Homo sapiens: one gene and its partners. The protein of the gene in region 5 purifies or fractionates together with the protein of the main gene of each other region. This does not show direct contact. Each region holds a gene or a part of one and is shown on either strand. Other genes may lie near its edges. The genes, in order: RIOK3, HIGD1A, TM9SF3, ROBO1, SLC16A9 and CLCC1.

The links.
Region 1: the proteins of SLC16A9 (region 5) and RIOK3 purify together in Homo sapiens (affinity purification with mass spectrometry; one large-scale study listed by BioGRID and IntAct). This does not show direct contact.
Region 2: the proteins of SLC16A9 (region 5) and HIGD1A purify together in Homo sapiens (affinity purification with mass spectrometry; one large-scale study listed by BioGRID and IntAct). This does not show direct contact.
Region 3: the proteins of SLC16A9 (region 5) and TM9SF3 purify together in Homo sapiens (affinity purification with mass spectrometry; one large-scale study listed by BioGRID and IntAct). This does not show direct contact.
Region 4: the proteins of SLC16A9 (region 5) and ROBO1 purify together in Homo sapiens (affinity purification with mass spectrometry; one large-scale study listed by BioGRID and IntAct). This does not show direct contact.
Region 6: the proteins of SLC16A9 (region 5) and CLCC1 purify together in Homo sapiens (affinity purification with mass spectrometry; one large-scale study listed by BioGRID and IntAct). This does not show direct contact.

Annotation. Positions count from the first base shown.
Region 1 is NC_000018.10:23,480,464-23,483,640, reverse strand, and holds the end of RIOK3 (serine/threonine-protein kinase RIO3), read right to left. Parts: intron 2,470-3,177; coding exon 2,362-2,469; 3' UTR 501-2,361; downstream 1-500.
Region 2 is NC_000003.12:42,794,491-42,797,990, forward strand, and holds part of HIGD1A (HIG1 domain family member 1A, mitochondrial), read right to left. Parts: intron 1-3,500. UniProt on the Homo sapiens protein: Proposed subunit of cytochrome c oxidase (COX, complex IV), which is the terminal component of the mitochondrial respiratory chain that catalyzes the reduction of oxygen to water. May play a role in the assembly of respiratory supercomplexes.
Region 3 is NC_000010.11:96,552,513-96,556,012, forward strand, and holds part of TM9SF3 (transmembrane 9 superfamily member 3 precursor), read right to left. Parts: intron 548-3,500; coding exon 416-547; intron 1-415.
Region 4 is NC_000003.12:79,757,999-79,761,498, forward strand, and holds part of ROBO1 (roundabout homolog 1 isoform a precursor), read right to left. Parts: intron 1-3,500. UniProt on the Homo sapiens protein: Receptor for SLIT1 and SLIT2 that mediates cellular responses to molecular guidance cues in cellular migration, including axonal navigation at the ventral midline of the neural tube and projection of axons to different regions during neuronal development.
Region 5 is NC_000010.11:59,707,051-59,710,992, forward strand, and holds the start of SLC16A9 (monocarboxylate transporter 9), read right to left. Parts: upstream 2,801-3,942; 5' UTR 2,429-2,800; intron 139-2,428; exon of another isoform or gene 56-138; intron 1-55.
Region 6 is NC_000001.11:108,929,005-108,932,484, forward strand, and holds the end of CLCC1 (chloride channel CLIC-like protein 1 isoform 1 precursor), read right to left. Parts: 3' UTR 937-3,480; coding exon of another isoform or gene 697-936; 3' UTR 501-696; downstream 1-500. Other genes in the region: GPSM2 (G-protein-signaling modulator 2), read left to right, coding at 697-936. UniProt on the Homo sapiens protein: Anion-selective channel with Ca(2+)-dependent and voltage-independent gating. Permeable to small monovalent anions with selectivity for bromide > chloride > nitrate > fluoride.

The DNA of each region.
Region 1 (3,177 bases), on a different chromosome or scaffold from region 5:
TGTGACCATAGCTCACTGCAGGCTTGATCTCCTGAGCTCTAAGAATCCTCCTGCCTCAGCCTCCCAAGTAGCTGGGACCAGAGATGCATGCCACCACACTCACCTAATGTTTTGTAGAGATGAGGTCTGCTATGCTGCTCAGGCAGATCTCAAACTCCTAGGCTCAAGTGATCATCCTGCCTCAGCATCCCAACGTATTGGGATTACAGGTGTGAGCCACCACGCCCAGCCAGTATTTGATTTTTTATTTACTTAGCAAACCAGTATTTTTCACTTTCTTTTTCTACTATGGGAAAAAAATCTACTCTCTAATCTACAAGGTGTGAGGGGGGGAACCTATTTGTAATGTGAAGTAGGCCATTTGCGATTGAAATCTAACAATGAGAAGTTGAGGGGGAATAATCTACTTAAAATAGCATTGCTTAACTTTATACAGAAACAGCAACTTGGTACCAGGACATAAGTTAATATAAGGAACAGGAAGATACCACACAAAGAACCAATTTTAAAATGATCTCTTTTTAATTTCTTAAAAAGCACATTCACAGCACACTCCAAGAATGCCACACAGCAGTGGTTTGCTGCTCTTTGTCAGAATATGTCAGAAAACAAAACAAAAAAAGTTTTAAATGCTAAAGATTTTAAAAATTAGTTCTCTGAAATTTCTGTAAAGCCAGTATCACCAGTCATATAAATCTTTATTTTGGAATCATAAACCTTTCAAAAATGTAATGAGCATCTACCCAAAATTACACCTCTCTGAAATGTAATTAAAAGCTATCCAACAAAAACAAAAATAAATATTTTTCTAGAAAGAACATATTTGGCATTTTAAAATAATGTTAAAAACAGCTTTCTCAAATGTAAATGATGTCTAGATTTTTACTTTCTATTACCAGACAGAAAGTTTGGATCTTTAGTGGTTCCAATCTGACTTCAGTAATAGGAGGCATGATTACATTGAAGTTAATGAACTTTAATCCTAACAAAGCCAATATACTTTTCTAGCACAGTGATTGCTTTTTAAAAGTGGTGTCCAGCACGTACTAAAAACTACTAAGAGTAAGGCCAGATAGCTCAAATTAGTTGATTAATTTGGTATCCAAATTGGGTTTTTTTTTTTTTTTCCTGGAGATGGAGTTTCCCTCTGTCACCTAGGCCGGAGTGCAGTGGCATGATCTCAGCTCACTGCAACCTCTGCCTCCCGGGTTCAAGCGATTCTCCTGTCTCAGCCTCCTGAGAAGCTGAGATTACAGAGAAGTGCCACCACACCCGGCTAATTTTTGTATTTTTAGTAGAGACAGGGTTTCGCCATGTTGCCCAGGCTGGTCTTGAACTCCTGACCTCAAGTGATCCACCCGCCTTGGTCTCCCAAAGTGCTGGGATTACAGGTTTGAGCCATCGTGCCTGGCCCCCAAATTGTTTTATATATACCTTTCATCCTTAGATTTAATATTTCTAATTTGTGATATTTCTCTGAAAATCAATCAAGTACACAGTTCTAGTGAAATATAAACTGAATTTTGCTTCATTAACTAAATTAAAATACGTCAAACATGGTTAAATCTTATATTCTGTCCTTTCAGATAATTTACATTTTATTGATAAATGTAGATTAGCCACACCATGAGTTATATCCTAACCATTTTACCTAAATGTAGAAAAGCTGAAAGTTGACTGGATAGTTAAAAAGCTGTTATATAGTTATCTCTTTCAGAAACCTATGATGCCTTTTCTTAGATATAAGTATGGAAAAAGAATTCTGTTCATTTTCATGATATATCAACAAAAATTACATGACTTATGTCGATTTCTGTCAGCCATTCTGAAACCAAATTTCCATTTGTTCTACCCACTAAAGAGCACACATTTTCCTTTAGAATCACGGCCACAGTCTGGAAACATAATTGAGAAAGGCTAACTCTGGGCCAATAAAATATTCAAGGAAAGACGCAACACAAAACAGGGAGGTGAATAAAGCAAGTATGTTGTAAAATCCTCCCTTGTAAACACATCTGTCCTTTCCTCCCATATTTGGAAGTGTTACCCAAGTTTTAAAAATTATCATCAAGACATTTTACACCACAAGTCACATAAAATTAGGTCTACTTCAGCCAGATAACCTATAGCTGTTAAAGAATTATATTATCCTGTTCATAAGATGAGAGGTAGTGACATTTTATTCTCTCAATGCTGAGCTAAAAATTCCACACATCTGGCACATGGGTTACAAGGGGGAAAAGCACAGAAGCACCATTGCCCACTCCTCAGGTTTTGGTATTTCAAGTCACCCATAACTTCATTTGCTATTGGCAGCTGACAATCACTGCTGTGTTAACACTGAAGCAGTGGGTATTAGTGCTATTCATCATATAGTAGTGGTGGGTCTCCATCATCTTTCAAAAATGAAGCAGCTTTCCTTCCATTCTTCTGAACGTGATCTTCATTCATTTTCTCCAAAGCTTCTATCTACAAAAATAATACATTGAATCCATTTGTCAAAATCCTACTTTTCACAGAAACCATATTTTAGATTGTGCTAGTAATTTTTTTCTTTTTTTGAGATGGAGTCTCACTCTGTCGTCCAGGCTGGAGTGCAGTGGTGCAATCTCGGCTCACTGCAACCTCTGCCTCCTGGGTTCAAGCAATTCTCCTGCCTCAGCCTCCCTAGTAGCTGGGACACATGTGCCACCACGCCAGCTAATTTTTGTATTTTTAGTAAAGACGGGTTTCACTATGTTGCCCAGGCTGGTCTCGAACTCCTGACCTCAGGTGTTCCACCCGCCTTGGCCTCTCAGAGTGCTAGGATTACAGGCGTGAGCCACCGTGTCCAGCCAGTTTTTTTATTTTTTATTTTTTAATGGAGTTTATGTTGCTCAGGCTGGTCTCAAACTCCTGGGCTCAAGAGATCCTCCCTCCTTGGCCTCCCAAAGTGTTGGGATAACAGATATAACAGGAGTGAGCTGCCATGCCTGGCTGAGCCAGTAATTTTTACTCGCTTAAAAACTAGGTTATTCCTAATGATTCTGCCTTTGAGTTGAAATTACTATGTGTGTGTGTGTGTGTGTGTGTGTGTGTGTGTGTGCGTGCATCCAAGTATACACAAATAGTCATACATACATGTATTTTTTTTAACTTGATTGCAAGGGTCAATATTTACTATCTTTATCCAGCTAG
Region 2 (3,500 bases), on a different chromosome or scaffold from region 5:
CCGTTTCCCCTGTACAACCCATTCATTTTTAGCACCATGTTAATTAAAAATAGTGAAAAATTTTAAATTGATGTTACTTTTATCAATTAAAATAGTAGCTACTAATTTTCTGGCTATCTTCATCCTTAATCAACTATTTAACTTGACAATTTTAAGTTACTCAAACCAAACTGACAACTCCTATTGAACCTTCAATATCATGTTGGAAATCCTACTTAGCACTTTTCGGTGTAGTTAAATGCAGTCTTTATTGCTTTCAACTGCTGATTTATTTATTCCAATGTGCTTCCTTGCTTCAATTTTCACTTCAGATTAGTTTCCAGTCTATTACAGTAATCTGTTATCCATGGTGGTTGCCTCTGGGGAAAAGATTATTCTGAATAGCCAAAGTTTCTACCTAGCTCATTATTTACTCATTTTAAGAACAAAGCTTTTATTTTAAATATTGGTAGAAATGTCTCCTTCATAGCCTTTTAGATTTTTTTAATGACCTATGATTAGTTTTTTTTCTTTTTTGAGACTGAGTCTTGCTCTGTTGCCCAGGGTGGAGTGCAGTGGCACGATCTCGGCTCACTGCAACCTCCATTTGGCACACACCACCGTGCCTAATTTTTTTGTATTCTTTAGTAGAGACAGGGTTTCACTCCTGACCTCACGTGATCCACCCACCTCAGCCTCCCAAACTGCTGGGATTACAGGTGTGAGCCACTGTGCCAGCTTATGATTAGCTTTTTTTTTTTTTTTTGAGATGGAGTTTCGTTCTTGTTGCCCAGGCTGGAGTGCAATGGCGTAGTCTTGGTTCACTGCAACCTCTGCCTCCCAGGTTCAAGTGATTCTCCTGCCTCAGCCTCCCAAATACCTGGGATTAGAAGTGCCTGCCACCATGCCTGGCTAATTTTTTTTGTATTTTTAGTAGAGATGGGGTTTCACCATCTTGACCAGGCTGGTCTCGAACTCCTGACCTCAGGTGATCCACCTGCCTCCCAGTGTTGGGATTACAGGCATGAGCTACCACACCTGGCCCTATGATTAGCACCTTTTAACATCACTGCAGCACAAAACTGAATTACCCTCAGGGTCTTCTTAATATCTTCTAAGCTTCAGATCTGCCTTCATTTACATACCTTATATCCCCTAGGCTTCCTTTTAAAACTCTACCCTCTTTTTATAATTCCTTTAAATGGTATCCCAAAGGCAAGATCTAGCCTGATAGTGTATGAGTAAGGGGATAGGAAAAAAAAAAAAAGGATTCATTTTCATTATCACAGGGATCAAAGGCTCCTTTCCTCCTTTTCAGTCATCTCCGTGAATAGCCCTTTTATCACAATGAGGCATTAACAAATGCTATTTCATTTTAGCCACAATAACAAAGTATACTTTCTTCACTGAACTATTTTGAATTGCAATAAACTTTACTCACAGATAAAATAAGGGCCTGAAGCATAGTGTAAGCATACAAGTCTCTAATTAGTGTCAATTACAATAAACTTAAAAGTCTATGCCCATCCTAACACCCATATAAAATCTTACTTTCACTTCTGGGTTTTTCATGTGCATTATGCTCCCTTTGATAAAAGTACCTCTCATTCAACACCTTGCTACTCAAGGGGAGTCAGTGGCAGTTAAGGTCCTCAACAAAAATGCAACTCCGGAGGGGGTGGTGTGCTTAGTTTAGAAAGTGAATTCATCCCTATAAGCCTCACCTTCATTGAGAAGACTCAACTGTCATCTGACATAGAAGAAAATCTTAGCTAAATAAAAGAAAATTTAGATTGGACTTAAACCTTCTTTTTGTACTCCATTACTTCTTAACTGAATAAACTCCTAAGTAATGAGCTTTATTATATATAAGGTTCAATAAGCTCAAGGTTCAAGATACTCACTATATATCTGAATAATACAATATAAACACTAAAGTAATTAATCGTTCAAAAATTAGTTGTTGTTTTTTTTTTTAAAAAAAAAAGAGAAATCATGTAACCGCCAAACAGGTTCACCTTGCCCGCTGGCTAGACAGAGCTGATTTACCAAGACAGGGGAATTGCAATAGAGAAAGAGCAATTCACCCAAAGCCAGCTGTGTGGGAGACCAGGATTTTTATTATTAGTCAAATCAGTCTCTTGGAGCATTCAGGGATCAGTTTTTAAGGATAATTTGGTGGGTGGGGGAAGGCCAGAGAACAGAGTGCTGATTGGTTGGGTTGGAGATGAAATGGGAAGTTGAAGCTGTCCTCTTGTGCTGAGTCAGTTCCTAGGTAGGGGACATAAGATCAGACGAGCCAGTTTATTGATCTGGGTGGTGCCAGTTGGTCTATCAAGTGCAGGGTCTGCAAAATATCTCAAGCACTGATCTTAGGAGCATTTTAGGGAGGGTTAGAATCTTATAACTTCCGTCCCTCTCCCTCTCCCTCTCCCTCTCCGTCTCCCTCTCCGTCTCCCTCTCCCTCTCCCTCCTTCTCCGTCTCCGTCTCCGTCTCCGTCTCCGTCTCCCTCTCCCCACGGTCTCCCTCTCATGCGGAGCCGAAGCTGGACTGTACTGCTGCCATCTCGGCTCACTGCAACCTCCCTGCCTGATTCTCCTGCCTCAGCCTGCCGAGTGCCTGCGATTGCAGGCACGCGCCGCCACGCCTGACTGGTTTTGGTGGAGACGGGGTTTCGCTGTGTTGGCCGGGCCGGTCTCCAGCCCCTAACCGCGAGTGATCCGCCAACCTCGGCCTCCCGAGGTGCCGGGATTGCAGACGGAGTCTCGTTCACTCAGTGCTCAGTGGTGCCCAGGCTGGAGTGCAGTGGCGTGATCTCGGCTCACTACAACCTCCACCTCCCAGCCGCCTGCCTTGGCCTCCCAAAGTGCCGAGATTGCAGCCTCTGCCCGGCCGCCACCCCGTCTGGGAAGTGAGGAGTGTCTCTGCCTGGCCGCCCATCGTCTGGGATGTGAGGAGCCCCTCTGCCCGGCCGCCCAGTCTGGGAAGTGAGGAGCGTCTCCGCCCGGCCGCCATCCCATCTAGGAAGTGAGGAGCGCCTCTTCCCAGCCGCCATCACATCTAGGAAGTGAGGAGCGTCTCTGCCCGGCCGCCCATCGTCTGAGATGTGGGGAGCGCCTCTGCCCCACCGCCCCATCTGGGATGTGAGGAGCGCCTCTGCCCGGCCGAGACCCCGTCTGGGAGGTGAGGAGCGTCTCTGCCCGGCCGCCCCGTCTGAGAAGTGAGGAGACCCTCTGCCTGGCAACCACCCCGTCTGAGAAGTGAGGAGCCCCTCCGCCCGGCAGCTGCCCCGTCTGAGAAGTGAGGAGCCTCTCCGCCCAGCAGCCACCCCATCTGGGAAGTGAGGAGCATCTCCGCCCGGCAGCCACCCCGTCCGGGAGGGAGGTGAGGGGGGGTCAGCCCCCCGCCCGGCCAGCCGCCCCATCCGGGAGGGAGGTGGGGGGTCAGCCCCCCGCCCGGCCAGCCGTGCCATCCGGGAGGGAGGTGGGGGGGTCAGCCCCCCGCCCGGCCAGCCGCCCGG
Region 3 (3,500 bases), about 37 Mb from region 5:
TTTGTTCTCTAACTTAGTAAAAGAACTTAGAAAACAAATCTTTCCTCTGAACCCACTAAACTGAACATAAATTAATCCTTCTACCCATTCCCTGAATTTTAAGCAGTATTTAACAGTATTAGACATATTCTTACTTGGTGGCAAAACTTGGCTTGAACTAACAAGAGGTTACACTATTTATTTATCCCACTTCGGGTGAATGTTCTTATGTTTTCCTGAAAAAAAATTAATATTATTTGATTACAGGGCATGGTTACAGACCACACTGGGCATTTTACATCTTTCTTAACTCTAAAAATCCTGAATTGTGGAAACTCAAAGACTTCCGGTAAGAAATTATGACCTACCTCCCAACATTTAAAACTTAACACTCAGTTAAAATGTTTCTACAAATATAATGTAAATGTTTACTCACCATATCATCCATTTCTTCCTCTTTACTGTACCGAGCATAATCTTTTCTTAATGTTCTCATTAAAATCATTGAAACTAAGCCCACCAAGAAGATCACCATCATGAAGGAGTTGAAAATTGAAAACCAATGAATCTAAAATAACAGAAAATAAAATGTTACCAACCTGCAATATCAGCCACAAAATTCATAGGTTCCATGAGGACAACCGGATGTTAATGCAAAGAAAAAAAAAAGTCTTTAATTAAATCCTTTAGACAAAAATCCAAATTTCAGACACTTTGAGGATGAGTATTCATTATGCCAAGGGGATTGGCTTTCTTTACAATAAGCACCCATATGTTGAAAACATGCTATCATTTATATAAATTTTCAAAATCAAATTTATTGTTAAAAACAAAAAGTACAATTTGGCCATATAACCTATGCTATTCAGCATTACATGGAAAAAACATGGGCTCTGGAGTCAAACATTGCCAGTTTCTGACTATGTGACCGCGGTTTTCTCATCTGGAAAATGGAGGAGCTAATACTTATCTTGTAAGTGATTTGTAGGGCTTAATAATGTATATATAAAGTATGGCACCTTAGATACTCAGTAAATGTTAGTTCCCTTCCCCCTAATTGAACAATCTGAAAACCTCCTTAAAATACTAAGACTAAACTATTATAGCTGGCTGCCATGGACTTAGGTCACCATCCTGAATGATTTGCTTCACTTGCTCCAGATTAGTTCATCCTCACCCTGTCACCATCATAATTCAGCCCTTTCCAAATCCATTTTCCATAGCATATTGAGGTATCCTTTAGTTCCTCAATGTTCTTGAAGCTCTTGGCTTTGATTTTATCCACATATTTGTTTCAATATTACATCTAGATTCTGATTCATAATCACAAGGTACTACTCAAAATGTAGCATATCTGATTTGAACTAGGTCTGTGGCACTGCCCAGTTATTTCTTTATTTACATTTTAATTCCCAAAAGATCTTTAGGGATAGTCCCCAAATTTCTCTCCTCTCTTCAAGGCCCCAATGCCATCCTTTCTGCTGCCTTCCCTTGAAGCAAATCCTGTCTTCTATGACACAACCTTTCCACATCCAGTTTTGAGGTGTTTTTTCTCCTCTCATTTTGCATCCCAACCCCTCCACCTTTCACCAGCCATCAGCAATCTCCAAAGGTCCTTATCTACAATGATGTCTACTCCCTGGGGTTGTCATAGAGTTTAAACAATAAAGGTAAAGCAAATAGTATAGTGCCTGGCACATCATAAACACTAAATAAAACCTAAAAGTTATTGTTATTGCTATTATTCTCTTTTGAAGTGTTTGCTTCATCTTTTGTCCCTCATTCTTTTCATCTTCTCACCTCCCGATCCTTTCAATGTCAATACTTTTCAAAGAAGACATGTTCCAGTTCTTCCCTCACTTCCTCCAAAACACAATACAATCTCACTTTTGCCCCACAAAATTTCTCTCAAAGGCCTGCAATGAACTTCTAAACCGATTCAGCAGCCAATTATCTGCCTCACTCTCCTTGATCTCTCTGCCACATCTGACCTTTCCTGACACTACAGCATCCTACTTCACTGACCGCTGCTTCTCCTCTTTCATCTTCCATGCTGGCTCCTCCCATCCTTTGTGAACTTCTCCAAAAGCTCCAGTCTTAGTACTCTGCTGTGACTTCTTTAGGCTCTCAGAACTTTTAACCAGCATTCCAATGATGATGATAACACCCTCGCCCCCACCTCCCATCCCACCCCAAATTGCTAGTCTTCTTTCTCACTCATGTTTCAGGCTTTTGCTAACTACAATAATTTCCACTTGAATGTTTCTGGAATTGCAGACTCAGACTGCCCTAAAGTACACTCATAATCTTCCACCTCATATATAACACTTGTTTCTGATTCTCTAACTTCTGCTAATGGTACTAACATGTGGCTTTGAAATTTTACAATTATCTCTGGCTCTTCCTTCTCCTTAATTCTTCATAGGTAATATTAAGCATGTATTTTTCTTCAAAATGACTTGTATCTATCCATTCTGCTTCATTCCCATGCCATCACCTCATACCTTGATAGCACTAATGGCCTCCTGGTTGGCCTTTTTTTTTTTTGGTCTCTCCCCTTCCTTTCAATTTATCCTGTAAAAAGCTATCAAGGAAATCTTTCCAAAGCAGGTTCATATATCACTCCTCTATTCTAAAATTTACAGTTGTACACCCTATTTCTCTCATATCAAATCTAAACTATTTTCTCCAATATTCTATACTTCCTGTAATATGGCCATCTCACCTTATCTAGTCAACTTTTCTTTCCATTATATTCTATATTCCAATAAGCCTTATCCCTCTTCAAGAATCCACAAGCACAGCATACTCACTTCCACCTCTGTATTTTTCTTATAATTTCTTCTCACATAGATCTACTTCTACTCCCCTTAGCAAATTCTACCCAGTCTTCATATTCCAACACAAGTACCTTCCCCTCCATGAAACCTCTTATCTACATATTCCGGTTCTTCATAGATATCCTCCTGCTCTAAAATTCTACAGGTACATACATATGCATTGCTGTGTATGATTAGGACATATGTTAACTTGGGCTAACGTGCTGAATATGTGCATGAAACTGAAGGGCAGTCCAGGCTCTGTTATCCACCCTGAGGTTTCAGGAACGAGATAAACTCTATGGATCTTCTTGAAAAACAGGAGACAGCCTCTTCAGAAGACTATTCCTTACTTCATTCAACAATTTATTTATTGAGCATCCAGTAAAATTATAAAGGAACCAAGAAATGCATTGTTTTTTGAAATGTTTGCTCAAAAAAGGTTATATAAATCTGAGTTTATTGTAAAAGTATCATTTAAGGTTCATAAAAGCAGTCTATGATTTTCCAAAGATTTGATTTTGTTCCCACCCTGAGATGTTAACCCAGAAAAGCTCAAGAGGGAAAGAAAAATGACACATACCATCTTTTAGTCAATTTATCAAATTTTTTAAAATAAAAGAAGTTTTATATAGTTACTAGTAACTATACTAATTAGACACACATAAAATGTTGTAATTTCTAACAAGGCTCTGCTATTTT
Region 4 (3,500 bases), on a different chromosome or scaffold from region 5:
CTTTGCAGGACATGCTGAAATCTGCAAAGTTGCAAAATTATCCTTACCAACACAATCATTAGTATAATACAACTCTGTGGCAGCTATCCACTGAAAATTAAAGCATTGATGTTATTACCATGCCCTGTAAAACTATTTTATTCATAAATTCATCTCCTTCTAATTTTACTGTGAGTCTATTCTTCCCAACACTGTCCAATAGAACTTTCTCTGATGATGGAAACCGTCTGTATCTGCTCTATCCAAGACAGTAGCCACCAGCCACATATTCATTGCATAAAATTGGCTATCTAAACTGAAACTCTAAATTAAAATAAATTTAATTTAAAAATCAGTTCCTTTGTTGCACTAGCACATTTTCAGTGTCAATAGGCACATGTAGCTAGTGGTTAGAGTATTAGACAGTACAAGTTTAGATAAATACAGTGATATATTGTTGTCATCTTTGTCCTAGTTAGTCACAGTCTGATTATTAAGATTGACACAAATAATGCTGTACTAAAGGGTAATACAGGTAAGTGCTCAGTCTTATTCAAACACGAATGAGAGAGAGATGATCTTTCTATAGGAATATGATTCAGAAGGGTCATAACAATAAAGTTATATCTTGAAGGATGAACATATTCTCTACAGAGAGAAAAGAAGAAAGGTATTTTGAGAAGACAAGAAGGGGAAGGCAATGAGTTGGAAACAGAGTGGTGTGTTGAGGGAGGGTAAAGTGTACCTTGTATTGTAAGGCAGACTATACTTAGGAGACAGGTGGGGAAAGGGAAAGAACTTAGGAAAGTAGCCTGGAGTCTATGAAAGGCAGAGTGCTGAAGAACTCAAACTTGAAGTCATATAAAAAAGGGCCAAAAAGAATGAATAAAAGCACACAATAAATTTGTTCATTTTCCAAAATAATTTCTTTCCTTTATCAGAATTGTGACAAAAACCATTAACTGGAAGAAATCAAAATTATTGGTATGAATATAATTTATATTTGGTATAGAGATTAATTTTAGGTAAGCTTATGAATTTATGCATCTGTCATTGGCTAAACCAGGCCATTTTTTAACACTCTCTTAAATTAATACCCAATATTTAAATAATCCAATACTTGTTTAGCACAAAGCATGCTTGTTTAGTATGAGGTTTTTAATTGGAGAATAAAAAGTAAATTCTTACAGAATACTTTCTATGACTGCGTATAAGTAAGTGAAGTTGTTTTACAATCTTCCTAGTTCCTCATTCCAGGGTAAAATTTAATATAATATATACAATATGATGGAATAATTTCCTTTCGAAACATTTTGTGCTTGGATTAATATTTTTGAGTGCTTATTCAAGGGTTACACATTGATCAGAAGCTGTTGGCTGTTGTGCTGAAATGTTCTGTCTCCAGGTTCTAATTCACCTGGCAAATGGTCAGTCATGCAACAGTCGTACAGTGAGTCATGCTTCTTCCTTCCAAGTACTGAAGTCCATTTCTAAGGTTTACCTTTGCTATAGTCCTATACACAAGGAAAGTTCATCCTTAGTAAACAGGATTCATTAATATACTCTATAAAGAACTAAAACTAAGTAAATGACGCTATGCATAGCTAAGGACTCATTGAACATGAGCAATTCACATACGATTTAAAGAGATTATACAGTTTGTCTTAAAAAAATGGTCTTTAATTCTGGCTAAACATAATCCGATTTTGTTTGAAGTCTTAATTAATGCTTTTCACTTTGGTTCATTAACATTGTGATGATTCAGTGAGATGACCATCCACAAACCAACCTGACAGACAATAACCAGAAACAAGTGTCTCACATGAGGACAGATGCCAACCAGCCTTATAAACAAATGGCAGTGCTAGCCCACCCACATATGGAACACTTATGAGTGGCAGTCATATTTTTCAGCACATAAAACAAAAAATCAATTCCAGGTAGATCAAAAGACCTGAATGTAAAAAGCAAAACTGAGGCGGGGAGTGGTGGCTCATGCCTGTAATCCCAGCACTTTGGGAGGTTGAGGTGGGTGGATCACCTGAGGTCAGGAGTTTGAGTCCAGCCTGGCCAATAAGGTGAAACCCTATCTCTACTAAAAATACAAAAATTATCTGGGTGTGGTGGTGTGCATCTGTAGTCCCAGTTACTCGGGAGGCTGAGCCAGGAGAATTGCTTGAACCTAGGAGGCGGAGGTTGCAGTGAGCCGAGATCGCGCCACTGCACTCCAGCCTGGGTGAGACAGTGAGACCCTATCTCAAAAAAAAAAAAAAAAAAAAAAAAAAAAAAAAAAAGCACAAGTGAAAAATTTTCAGAAAAAATATAAGAAGTATTTTATGACTTCACCATAAAGATTGGTTTCCCAAAACAAGATGGAAAAAGGAAAAATGTAATAAAAGGTAATCAATTTTAACAAAGCACAGTGTATATCATATTTGAAAAAACGATACAAAATTATTTCCTTCATTAAGAAGAAAAAAGATAAAACAGCCTAGGAAAATATATTTCCAATGCAATACCAAAAAAAAAAAAAAAATAGAATCCAGGATATATAAAGAATTTGTATAATCTATAAGAAAAAAGATAAATGTCTCACTAGAGAAATGGGTAAAAATTATGTTTAAGCAATTCACAGCAAAAAAAAAAAACCTGAATGTTCTATGAAAACATGCTCACCACACTAATAATCAGAAAAGACAAATTAAAACCATTCAACTGGCAAAATTACAAAATGTGACATTATTAAATATTCATGGGGGCTTTCACAAGTATAAGAGATTATACAGTTTGTCTTAAAAAATGGTCTTTAATTCTGGCTAAACATAATTACAAATTATGTAATTTTGCAAATTACAAATACTACAGGGTACTGTTATGGGTTTGGGGGCAAAAAAGAGAAGAAACACATTACACGTCATCAGCAATTTCACTTCTAGGCAAATATCTAAAAAGTATGTGTGCACAGTGAGACATGTGCCAAAAAATTGCTACAGTCTGTTATAGTAAGAAAAATACCTATAAATGAGAGAGAAAAACATAAAATATAATACATATTTTAATACTGTATATATACTATAATATATATGCACTATATTATATATGAAATATATGTACTATATATAAAATATACTATATATTTTTACCATACCTACTAAATATATAATAATAATATATTTAAAAATATAATATATGTATATACTTATAGTATTTATAGAACACTATATTGCAATGAATATGAATAAAGTAACTGTACCCGAAGCAACTTGAATTAATCATAAAAAAATATTTCCAAGAATGCAAACAATATTTGACAATTTAGGCTAATATTTTATTTACTTAAGACAATACTATATATGAATTAAATATGTAATATATACAGTAAACTCAAGAGAAAATGCATAGAAATAATAACAGCAAATTTACCACACTGGTTACCTCTTAGAAGGGAGATTCAATCTGGAAGAGTACCCAGAAAACTTCAATATTACATTTAATCTTTTATTACTTAACCTGGGTGGTAA
Region 5 (3,942 bases):
AATCCAGCTTGGGAACCATGGCGAAACCCCATCTCTACAAAAACACAGAAATTACCTGGGTGTGGTGGCACACGCTTGTAGTCCCAGCTACTCGGGAGGCTGAGGTGCGAGGATCACCTGAGCCTGGTGAAGTCGAGGCTGCAGTGAGAAGAAAGAGAGAGAGAGAAGAGAGAGAAGAAAAGAGGGAAGGAAAAGAGGGGAGGGCAGAGGAGGGGAGGGGAGAGGAGGGAAGGGAAGGGAAGGGAAGGGAAGGGAAGGGAAGGGAAGGGAAGGGAAGGGAAGGGAGGGGAAGGGAGGGGAAGGGAAGGGAAGGGAGACTTGAATCTAAAATTGTTGAACTCAGAGAATAGAGTAGAACCCTGGTTACCAGTAGGTAGGGTTGGGGTGAAGAGATGTTTGTCAAAGGATACAAAATTTCAGTTAGATAGGAGCAATAAGTTTAAGAGATCTATTGTGCAACATAGTGACTATAGTCACTATAGTCACAATTTTGAAAATTGTTAAGATGGTAGATTTGAAGTGTTCTCACCACACCAAAAAAAAAAAAAAAACAAAAGATAAAAATGTGACGTAATACATATAGGTTAATTATGTTGGTTGGGCCATTCTACAATGTATTACTGTTTCAAAATACTGTGTTGTGTGCATCATAAATATATACAATTTTTATTACCTAATTAATTAGGGGTTTGAAAGATTGAGGTAAGGAAGTAAAACTTGAAAATGTGACCACATCTCTGTAGTTGTCATCCTCTAGCTTGAGTTGCATGGCCAGATCCACCCCAGACCACCATAATGTGTCCTGATAAAGATTCAGACACCAACCAATTCACACCACCTTTTCAGACTCAAAGTCAGAAGCCAGAAAAGATTTCCTAATGTCTTGATCTACCTCCCCATATCTTTGGCTCCTCCCAATGCTCTTCCTATGGATATGAAGGATACCTGTTATTCCACTTGCCTACACAAAAAATGGAAGAAACCAGTAGGGATGTTATTAGGGGGTCGGTGGTGCTGAAAGTCTGAGTTGTTGCAAAATTGCAGGTTAAATTATTTTATCTAATTCCTACTTGCGAGGACTTTTTTTTGATGGTGGAGGGAGAGCGGGACTGGTTTCTGGCAATGATATGGGTACTAACCATGTTTTCTGCATTTACATATTTATTATTAATTATTGCAACAGATAATAGAAAATGACTTTACTCTGCATTTGGTCCAGGAAAGTGGAAGGGTTTTCCTATTAGAAGTTTTAAAAGAAGCTATAATCATGCAACAAATAATCATCCTTTCTCTTCGGAATCTTCTCTAGCTTCCTCAGCCCTCTGCCTAAACCTGCCTGAAGAATTTCTCGAAGCTGAAGCCAACTCAAATATAAGAAACTGTTAGGGCATACCGATTTACAGAATTTGATGGAACAACGGAAAATCCTGGGTGCAGGGAATGGGAGAATCCACCTTCAATATGAACTGTTATTCAGTTAATTCAAGATTTTTAAAAAACACATCAAAACTGTAGCCTAGAAAATTGACCAAAAATGTTATATCGAATAACTTACTATATAAGTAATATATTTAGCGTAAATCCTGACTAAACTTCGGGGATAGTTTGTGTTGGATAGACTAGGCACCCAGAAAACAAGGTAAAGCATTGATTTGCTTTTGACAGCCAAGTTTGTTCGTGGTTATCAGCTCTCTGGAAAGCCTCTGGGCGCTGCTGAAGCCAGAGCAGGTTACCTAGGGCGAACCAAAGATGGGGCATTAAGCACCAAGTCCTCCCAAGTGCTGGCTGAGGGTCCAGGTGGGCGCGGTGCCGGTGCCTCCTGCGGCGGTGGCGAAGGCTGGGCTCCCGCGCTCGCCCAGGGCTGCCGGGTGGTGCTGAACCTGGCGCCAACGTGCAGAATCCGCCGGCCCTGCGCGCTGCGCTCCACGTAGGTCAGGAGTACCCGCGGCGCCCCATTCCCAACCCTCCGGGGGCACCTGGTTGCTCGCGCTCCGGACCAAGGCAGTTGGAGGCCTTTCGGTCCTCTGGGAAATGGAGGCCCACCTGCATCACATGCACCTCTCCCTGCTCTTCCACCAGCAACCCTGGAAGCTCTCTGGAGTCCAGAGGCAGCTCTCTGGGGGGCCACCGTACCACCCCCAGGACCCCCTCCCTCTCTTTCAACTCCGTACAAAATGCCGCCTTCGGATTCCCGGGAAAACTTGCCCACTTTGTAGAAGCACCCCATCAAAAAGGGGGCGGCGAGGGGCGGGCGCACCGTGGACACTCGAAGCCCCCGGCACACACCCCAGACAAAAGCCCGGTTCCATGCTGCTCCACCGCCCCCTCCTACTGCTCCGAGTCGGAGTTACTTCTTGCCTCTAGGACGCTGGGCAGCAGGGGCTGCTGCCCACCTTTGGAACCCTCCCCGCAAGCTCCAGCCCTTTACCTGAGTCCCGGCCTCGGCGGGGCCTCCGGTGCTCAGCACCCGGCTCAGTGCCCCGTGCGGCCGGGCTGGTGGTGTGGTGGGGATCGCGGCCGCCGCTCTCCCCTGCAGCTCCGGGCCAGCCGGGCGGCTATTTATCCGAGCCAGCTGCGGCCCCGGCCCCTGCCGGAGTATTAGGCAATCGGTCCCGCTACGCGCTGCCCCGGGAGCCGCCGCCCTCTGCCCCCACAGACCCGCAGCGGCGGCGGCCACATGGAGCTGGGGAGCCGGCCCCCTTCTCTGAGCTCCACCTTCTCTTTCGCCTTCTCCTCCCCGGGGTTTTCCCTGCTGTCTTTTTCTCCCTTGTCTCTCTTTGCGGGGCACCCCGGCCAGTCTGAACCGGTTGTGACTGCGCGGGTGGTTGGGGGAAGGAGGAGGAGGAGGCGGAGGAGATGGAGGCGGAAAAGCGGGCGGTAGGGGCGCTGCGCCTGCTCCCGCTGCTCCCGGCCCGGCCAGGAGTAGGGAGGGCACTGCCCGAGCCGCGGCCCCGGCCCTACCAGGCCTGGAGCCACCAAAGCCACGAGAGAGGTGGGCGCCGTCGGCCAGGCGCCCTCTCGGTGCGCACACACGCGCGTCCCCAGGCGCCGCTGTGCCCCCGCCGCCCACCACGTGCCCTGGCCAAGCCCGCCAAGGGCCGTGCGCGTTTGGGGGGAGCCGGGGTGTACAAATGAATGCGAGTGTTCCTTGGTCTCCCTGGCTCCCGGGGCCGCTGGCGCCCTCCTGGCCGGAGCTGTATGCTCAGCTGGCAGTGGTCCCGGAGAAACGGGCACCAGAACTTTGTGGAGTCCGTGATCCTGGGAAGTGAGGAGTGAGGATGCCAAGTACAGTCCTTTGTGACAGCTCCGCGGGAAAGGAGGGCGTCCTGCGGTGCACACACACACACACACACACACACACACACACACACACACACACACACAGGCTGCTTCTAAGGACGTTCAGTCTGTCCTGCAGTTGAACTGCACTAACAATACTACCATTGGCAATACTATCTTTGGTAATGGGCTTGCGCGCAGAGATGGATGGCTGTTTTATCCCTCAGTCACTGCAGCAGCTGGGGGCTGTCCATAGGTACCAGTGGTTCGCCGGCCGTGGGAAACCTCCAAAGTGATATGCACTTTTTGTGTTCCTCTGTGTTTTTTCTGGGAAGCCGCACCACACTTTCTACTTCTTAAAGGGGACTGCGGCCATCAACCACCTTGATGAGAACTTCCTTTATACACTGAAGTGACAGGTCCTGGCCTAGACGAAGACTCTACACCTGGCAAAGGGTTGGTTTCAGAAGTGCTGATCAAGCTGCTGAGCCTCTGTTTCCTTGTCTATGAAATTACAAGAATCTTGCCTGTATCATGGAGTTTGTGTGAGATGAGAGTTTAAAAAACCTGTGGAGCCTAGGCAACCATGTCATGTTTTCTTACAGCACAAATGTGGTGGAGGTTCAGCCCTTTTGGCCCCCATCAGTCCTTTCTACTCAATTT
Region 6 (3,480 bases), on a different chromosome or scaffold from region 5:
AAATTCATTCTGGGCTATTTCTTAACAGATTTAACAGCCTAAGACAGAGGCAGGCAAACTTTTTCTGTAAAAGGCCAGATAGAAAATATTTTAGGCTTTGCCGCCCATATGGTATCTATTGCAACTGCCCAACTCTGCCATTTAGTAGGGAAGCAGCCATATAGATAGTATATAAACATATGTATTGATGGGAAAATGAAAATGACTTCATTTACAGAAGCCGGCACTGGGTTACAGTTTGCTGTCCCCTAGCCTAAGACGTGATTTTTTTAAGGTAGTTCCTCATGGGGTTTGTACATATTTCTAAAGATTTGTTAAGTTACACAGTTGATGCCTGTTAGATTATAACCTTGAACTGTCATACTTAGATACAGTTGACCTTGTCTTTTATCCTTGTGACCAATTATAATTAAAACAGTATGACTTAACATAATGCACGTACTAAACCAATGAAGCAGCTATACCTATATAAGCCATTTTAAAGGAAAAATTTTATGCAGTTTCAGGTTTAAAGATTATTTCTTTCAGAAATCAGGCTGGGAACTAAAGAGAACAATATAAAAACAAAGATTAATTTCTGAGAAGCCCCAAATAAAAGTTTACAACTGCGTTTTCTTGTTGTGACTGAGAGATTTAACATAGCTTGGTGCTTTCTTTCCCACAGTATGTCTTTTAATCTCTCTCATAAACTTCTAGGGATCCAGATTAGATGATCAAAGATGTGCTCCACCACCTGCTACCACAAAGGGTCCGACAGTACCAGATGAAGACTTTTTCAGCCTTATTTTACGGTCCCAGGGAAAGAGAATGGATGAACAGAGAGTTCTTTTACAAAGAGATCAAAACAGAGACACTGACTTTGGGCTAAAGGACTTTTTGCAAAATAATGCTTTGTTGGAGTTTAAAAATTCAGGGAAAAAATCGGCAGACCATTAGTTACTATGGATTTATTTTTTTTCCTTTCAAACACGGTAAGGAAACAATCTATTACTTTTTTCCTTAAAAGGAGAATTTATAGCACTGTAATACAGCTTAAAATATTTTTAGAATGATGTAAATAGTTAACCTTCAGTAGTCTATTAAGGCATTAATACTTCTCTGGACATGCGCGTTTGAGGGTGGAGGGGTCCTGTAAGGTGCTTCATCGTCTGTGATTACTGCTTGGGATGTGTTCTTTGGCAGCTTGTGAGATTACTTTACCTAGTGTTTATAAAGTAGGAAGTTAAGTGAATCATAGATTAGAATTTAATACTCTTATGGAAATAATTTTTTAACATCTTAATTGACAATGGCGTTTTTTTATACATAACCATGGATGTAGTGGGAAACAATGTTGTTTGGTAAAAATAATGTACTTGATCAATGTAAAAAAGTATATAAAATAGTCTTACTAAAAATCTAGGTTTTTTTTTCCTCCATGAAAATCTGTTTTTTTAGGCCAAAGTCAGTATAAAAGAAACTCTACTTCTTGGGCTGGGCATGGTGGCTCATTCCTGTAATCCCAGCACATTGGGAGGCTGAGGCAGGAGGATCGCTTGAGGCTAGGAGTTCAAGACCAACCTGGGCAACATAGACCCCCGTGTCTATGAAAAATAAATCAGCAGCCAGGCGCAGTGGCTCACACCTGTAATCCCAGCACTTTGGGAGGCCGAAGCGGGCGGATCACTTGAGGTCGGGAGTTTGAGACCAGCCTGGCCAACATAGTGAAACCCTGTCTCTACTAAAAATACAAAAATTAGCTGGGCATGGTGGCATGCGCCTGTAGTTTCAGCTACTTGGGAGGCTGAGGCAGGAGAATCACTTGAACCCCTGGGAGGCAGAGATTGCAGTGAGCTGAGACCAAGCCACTGGACTCCAGCCTGAGTGACAGAGCAAGACTCTGTCTCAAAAAAAAAAAAAACAGCAAGCATGCTGGCACACACCTGTAGTCCCAACTGCTTAAGAGGCTGAGGCAGGAGGACCACTTGAGCCCAGGAGGTGGAGGCTGCACTGAGCTATGATCGTGCCACTGCACTCCAGCCTGGGTGACAGAGCAAGACCCTGTCTCTAGAAAACAAGTATCTTTTGTGTGTTTTGGGCTGTTTAAAAAAATTATTTAAAATGGTCTCTTCTGTTCCATAATACTGCTGTAAAACAAACTTTTCTAAGTTCTAATATAAAAACAAAAAACAAAACCCATGTGGTTAGGTCAAGAACCTAGGACACATAAACAAACAGAAAACAGATGAAAACTCACAAAAATTAAATATGAAAGAAAGATGTCAGCTAGAACCTTAGTTGTCATTAAGCTTTGTCTTCCTTATCCCAGATATTGAAGGCAGTTTACAAGGGGATGATAACAAAGTAACTAACTAACTGTAGCAAAAGACAAGTATGGGACAGACTGGGACCTGGAGTAACACTGGATCACAGACTGCAAAGGCCCACGCTTGGAACAAGTTGCCAACTTGTTTCACTCTGCTTGCTTCAGACTGTGCACAGCTGGGATGGGATCTGGGGATGTGGACCCCTATTCTTTCAAAAAGTCATTCAGGTGATTTGGATGGGCAAATAGAACTATTTCTCTAATGGCCAATGTTTTTTAAGAGTCATAACCTGGAATTAATTACATTAAGTGCTCAGCTAAAAAAAAAAAAAAAGTTCTAAATTACAACCTGGATTACATTATGTTTCATGTATACTATAAGGTATGATGTCCTGGATAGCATTTTAAAAACTCAGGTAAGTTTCATGGGGTTCTTATAAGAAAATTCAGTTAAGACAATATACCAAACCACAACGTAAAAAGTTTGTGTATACAAACTTTTTGTATTATTTGTACACAAAGTACAAATTTGTATTTGTACACAAAGTACAAACTTTGTGTATTATTTTGTGTATACAATAGTTCTTACAGCCTGTAAACATTCAACATTATTCCATTTAAACATTGTTTTTAACAGCTGTCTACCCTGTTCTGATTTTCCTAAAAGCTTCACACTATATAGGCTGGGCACAATGGCTCATGCCTGTAATCCCAGCACTTTGGGAGGCCGACAAGGGCGGGTCACTTGAGGTCAGGAGTTCGAGACCAGCCTGACCAACATGGTGAAACCCCATCTCTACTAAAAAATACAAAAATTAGCCAGGCATGGTGATGCACATCTGTAATCCTAGCTACTCGGGAGACTGAGGCAGGAGAATCTCTTGAACCTGGGAGGTGGAGGTTGCAGTGAGCCGAGATTGTACCACCTCACTCCAGCCTGGGTGACAGAGCAAAACTCTCAAAAAAAAGTAAAATTTCAAAAAAGCTTCACAATATAAACCTTAATTTTAATGACATATTGGCTAGTCAATAAACAAGTCTTATCTCATCTCATCTCTTTTCTGATAACAAACACCCGATGTGTTCAATTTGCTTTCATATTTAAGTCTTTCCTGAATTGCTGTCATCATTCAACAACAGTTGCATGTCGCCTTGCTAGCTGTCAAAGTAGACTT